Regions from separate parts of the Homo sapiens genome. Here region 1 is linked to region 2. The links come from fine-mapping of genetic effects on gene expression. A gene starts in region 2. The other region holds a variant in brackets. All regions are shown on one strand. Distances are from middle to middle.

Evidence for each region.
Region 1: its variant is fine-mapped to the expression of SINHCAF in whole blood (TOPMed, PIP above 0.99).

What each region holds. Positions count from the first base shown.
Region 1 is chr12:31,268,960-31,271,768 of GRCh38, forward strand. No RefSeq gene overlaps it. Among named protein-coding and RNA genes, the nearest start is that of FLJ13224, 54 kb to the right of the region's middle. The variant T/G (reference allele first, on the strand shown) is at 1,516.
Region 2 is chr12:31,324,773-31,327,581 of GRCh38, forward strand. It overlaps SINHCAF (SIN3-HDAC complex associated factor), which reads right to left and starts at 1,378. Exons shown (of 6, transcript NM_001135812.2): 1 at 1,252-1,378. It overlaps FLJ13224 (a long non-coding RNA gene), which reads left to right. Exons shown (of 1, transcript NR_026806.1): 1 at 1-1,173. RefSeq lists an enhancer at 467-1,398.

The sequences.
Region 1 (2,809 bases), 56 kb before region 2:
CATCTCCAAGGCTGGAGTGCAGTGGCACGATCATAGTTCACTGCAGCCTAGAAATCCTGAACTCAAGCAATCCTCCCACCTCAACCTCCCAAGTAGCTAGAACTACAGGTGCATGCCACTATGTTCAACTACGTTTTTTTATTTTTTGTAGAGACAGGGTCTTGCTATGTTGTCCAGGCTGGTCTCAAACTCCTGGCCTCAAGAAATCCTCCCACTTTAGCCTCCCAAAGTGCTGGGATTACAGGTGTGAGCCACCACACCAGGCCCAGTTTTAAACACAGAAGCTGAATTTCTAATTCCAGTCACAGTTCCATCATCAATGAGGACAAAAGAAGTAAGAGTGCATGTATTTAACAAAACATTATATTTTTCTTTGTAAGCAAATGACTAAAATTAACAAGAAATTACTGGATAACTGCCTCACTCATTTGCCATCACTTTTTCCAACTGCTGCTCCTACTGTCTTAATTACTTTTGTCTGGTGCTTTGCAGAACTGTCACTGCGAGGATTCATTTTGGACCTTAACTGTCAGATCACTTTAGCCAGGTTTCATCTCCTGCTAAAGATTCCACATGAAGAGATGGCATAAAGGAGCTGGTGGGTACAAGGCTCTTCACAGACATGCAAACCTGGAGAAACCATCTGTGGCCAGCATTCCTTGTTCATCTAAGAAAATACATGTTCCTTTATAATCTAGTTTTCCAAACATGGATCACCTCCTCTTCCCCTAAATTTTCTTTCCTTGTAGCTACACAAATGAAACCACTCAAGTTCCCATCTCTTCTCCCTGCCAGTGTTGCATCGGGCTGATAATGCTGGACGGGAGAAAACAAACCTCTTTGACTCTTCCGCCATCTACTGACATGGAAAACTGCCTATGCGGCAGTGAAACATAAAGAACTACCGGAAAAGAGGAGGACCTAGATGCTGAGCCCTGATATGGAAGACAAAAGACCAAGGTTGTTACTGAACTGGGGGATGGGGATGGAGAGCTGGATTTACAAGTGATGTCTTTTTAAAAAAAAAAAATATCTTAGGCTGGGTGCAGTAGCTCACACCTGTAATCCCAGCACTTTGGGAGGCTGAGGTGGGCAGATCACTTGAGGTCTTCTAGTACTTGGCAACATCTATTACTGCACTGCTAAGTTATGGAATCACATTTGTTTTCCCTGAAATAAGTTTTCTTGGCTTCTCCATCCACTGATAATCTCTCCCACAATATTGTGACTTGATTCTGTTCCAGGTGAACCTTTTCCTAGTATTTCTTGTATTCTTTATTATCTGTCATGTTAGGGCAGCTGTGGAGCTTCATTTTTACAACTGCTGAATCTAAATTTAACTGCTGATTTTCTACCATCCATTTTCAACCTTCTTTAAAAAGCCTGGTGAGTAACTTTATCTGTCATGGCCCATTTCAATGCCCTCAATAGTAAAACCGGCGAATGTGGAGACCCATCCTTAATGAAGAGACCAGTTTGGTCATTCTTACTATTTTCCATGGATTTTCAACATGA[T/G]TAAGAAAAAATAATTTGAGGCTGAGAATTGTAGTTACCCAACTGAATGGAAGGCAAAGGAAGAAACTAGACGCTCCCAGGTAACTGCCCAGTTTTTGTATTTGTTTTTCCTTTCCACCAATGACAAGGTATGCTCAATAACTTTACTCCCGAAGGAGGATATCCCATTCTGAAAAACACACCACTGTATGCGATAAAGGCAGGGGGAGGAAACATTACACTGTGGGAGAGGGAACAAACGTTTGATCAGCGTGTAACAGAAAACAGTTCTGGCAACTATTATTTCTTCTTCTCCCTCAAATCCAGGAAAGGTCCATAGGCCATTTTCTGTAATATTTCACCAACCAAAATGATCTCTTGGACTTGAAAATAAACGCCCCCATTTCCAACCCTCCATCACTCTAAAATTATTAGTGATCTTCAGGTACTTGAAAAAGTAAACTTCTGGCCAGGCGCAGTGGCTCATGCCTGTGATCCCAACATTTTGGAAGGCCGAGGCAGGCGGATCACTTGAGGTCAGGAGTTTGAGACCACCCTTGCCAACATGGTAGAACGCCATCTCTACTAAAAGTACAAAAATTAGCCAAGTGTGGTGGTGCACACCTGTAGTGCCAGCTGCTTGGGAGGCTGAGGCAGGAGAATCGCTTGAACCCGGGAGGCGGAGGTTGTAGTGAGCTGAGATCGTACCACTGCACTGTGACAGAGCAGGCTCCATCTCAAAAAAAAAAAGTAAACTAAACTTCTTATTGAAATGTAATGCACAGAGAAGTATGCAGCTCTCTCCAAACCTTTTTTATCTCTTTCCAATTATTTTTTTAAAAAAGTATATGTGCCCCAGCATGCTTCCTTGTTATGAACTGTGCACAGGTAGGACTCTGCTAATATTATGTAAATTATAAAACATATACAAACAGGACAGGAGAGAAAATGAGGAAAAATCAACAGAAATAGGAGTTCTAATTTTTACTTTGCACACTTCAATGGGCCAGTCTTACATATAACTTTAGAAATCACAGCTTTAAAGACAGTGGCAACACGCTGCATTCACAACCAGGTTGACTGGAGGCTTTAGGAAAGGTTTGGTAGCTTCTGGCCTCAATGGTATGACATCAACTCAATCTCCAAAAATACACTGGACAGAAATCCAGCTGTCCTAAAAGTTTAGAAATGTGGCCACCATGTCTGTGATATCCAAGGGTTGCAAATCACATTGCATGTCTTTATCCGCAACGGCAGTCTTCTAGGAAAATGGCATTTGGGGAAGGAAGAAGGTGGATACAAATATACCTTCTTC
Region 2 (2,809 bases):
GTCCGGAGCCTGGCCCCCCGACCCTCCCCTCGGGAGCAGGCCCATTTAATCAAAGTTTTGCAGTGTCCTTGATGAGAAACGCCCGGAGTATCCGCCCCGCACGGGCGGAGAGTTGGCGACTTTCACTCTGCTTTTTAAACTGGCAAGACGCCATCATCAGCAAACCACATTGTCCTGCCGGCCGGACCTGCCCGACGGCGGCCGCATCCCACGGCTCACGCGGGGCTGGACATTCGGACAAGGACCAGGGTCGCAGCCCGAAGCACGTGGTCTGTCACGTAGAGCACAAAAAGCAGTGCCCTGCGGAGTTCACTGACTCCCGCGGCGTACACAACGCCGCCGCCTCCATCTCCAGCCAAGTTGGCTTCCCTGGCCATCTTACAGCGCGGACGGCCGCCCATAAACGGGAAGCCCTCGCGGTGTCGCCCACACCTACGCTACAGGTGAACGCACCGGGAGCAAAACTTCGGGCTCCGAAAGCACCCCGGACACCAGAGGCTCTTGGGCGCGGTCCGAAGAGGGCAGGCGAGTGGAAGACGGGCTGTTTTTAAGCGACCGCGTGTTGCTCTCATTGTCGCATCCGCATCCCTCCGGAGTTGAGCAAACAACGCCACGCCGCGTGCGCTCCGGCAGAGCCCAGCACTGACCCCCAAAGGCCGATTTAAAGACCCTCGGCCGCCAGCTCGGAAGCGGATGGCAACTTAGTTTCCGAGCGAATGGCGTTTATTGTCCACCCTAGTCCGAGGGCTGCAGTCAACTAAACCACGAGGTTTCACAACGGCGCCCGACCCTGCCCGCGCCTCGCGCCCACGCGGACGCACCGACCCCGGCCGCTGCGCGGTGGCCAACGAGTCGCTTTCCTCTCGGGCCTTTCGGCCGCCGGGCTCCTTTCCGCGAGAGAACACTGCGGCGGAGAAAAGTCATTGTCACCTTCAACGTGGATCCCTCAACTCCGGCGACTCCTCAATTATGCCCAGGCTCCACTCACTTCCCCGCCCCGAGACTTTCGGTTTGCCTCAAATACCCTCCCCAATTAATAAATACACACTAAACACGAGCGTACCAAAGAACCTGGGGTCTGAAGATCACGAAAACAGCGCTCCCAACAATGCCACCTCCAAGACAAAACTTCCTGTGTGTATGTGGAAGGACGGGGGGAGGTGGGTGGAGGTGAAAAGAGAAAAAAAAAAACACTGAAATCAAAGCCTCGTGAGACAGTTTTGCACTAGAAGCATGGTGAGAGTCACTCACCTTCCAAAAGCAGCCGTTCCACGCGCAATAATGTCCCCGAGGTGCGGAGTGCACGCCAGGCCAGTCCCCCTCAAGCGCTCCCTCCTCCTCAACTGCCTTGTCTAGAAAGATAGTCTCCTGCAGTTCTGCAGTTGCTACCGCTGGCCGGGAAGGTGTAGATTCCGCTTTCCCTCTGCGCACGCGCGGCTCCCGGCACAAAATTCTCTTGAATCGAACTTATTTGCATACGGGCGCGCGCACGTTGCGGGCTGGGAGGGGGAGAAGTCCCGGCGACCGCGCGCGCTCCCGAGGCCTCTATTGTCCTTTTAAGGGGAGAAGCTCCGCGGCGCGGGAAACGCGGCGGCCAGAGGGAAACGGGGGCGGGGACTGCTTACTACGGCGGACGTCACATAAACAAACGCCCCCCCCCCCGGCTGCAGGCCGCGGCGGAGAGGGAGAGGCGAGGTGGGAAAGGGAAAGGTTAGCAACTGAGGGGAGGGCTGCGCTGCTTGGCGTGTTTTCCGCCCCCGAAGTTGTTAGGGGCACCATTGAGCGCTGAAAAATTGTTCTGAAAGCTGCTTTTGCAAAATTCTCACACCTGTCCCCACTGTCGGTGACAGAGGAGGTGGTCTTGTAAGCACCCAGACTGAATTTATACTAATCCCACGTTTCCTAAATTTTGTTTGAAGTTAGGTTTTTGAAGCTTGTAAAAAAAAAATCCTCTGGGGCCAGCAAAGGTTTAGTTTTTGTGCAGTTGTAATGAGTCGTTTAATAAAGTCCCATTTTAACACCCTAGCCATTCGCTAACTCCCGCTTGCCCTTCTCAAATAGTAACCCAACCCATAACAATCCAGTTTTTTCCTCCACTTCGGCCTTAAGATTTCAAGTCTCTCCGAATTGAATGATTGTTAATTTCCGTGGGAACAGTGCCGCTTTCTTTAAAAGACTAGGCATTGGAAAGCCAATAACCTAGGGACAGGCATACCTCCTCTAGCAGCTTGTAAAGGGTGTTCCACTCACCCAGAAATAATTCCAGTAACTGGTGGTCTTGGGAATGGAAAAAATAACGAGTGACGTACAGACTTTTCAATGCAGAATATGTAATAATTCAACAATCTAAGCGCTTTCTAGACTCCGGAAGAAAAAAACTGAAGTAACTCTTCTCAGATTGATAAGAGGAAAATGAAAACCGAATGATTGATTCGCCTTTGTCCCAAGGACACACTTAACACCAACAGGCAGAAACCCGGGGTTAATGATAGAGGGTGGGGAGAGAGGAAGGATGTTTTTCCCAGAAACTTGATATTGGTCCCAAGTTACAAAAGTGTGAAAATCAACCATAAAACTTAATCATCTGCTGACACGTTTCGCTGCTTTCACTGCAGTGTCAACAATACAGATTTAAATAGTTACTTCTGAAATGTTAATTTAATTCAACAGGCAATTCCTAGTACATACAGTATAAACCCACTTCTGAACTCCTCAACTAATACTTCTTTATTTTTCTTTAGGTTCTGTAACATACTATTCCTGTAACTGTATATGAAAACTATATTATAAATACCTGAAAAGATAGCCT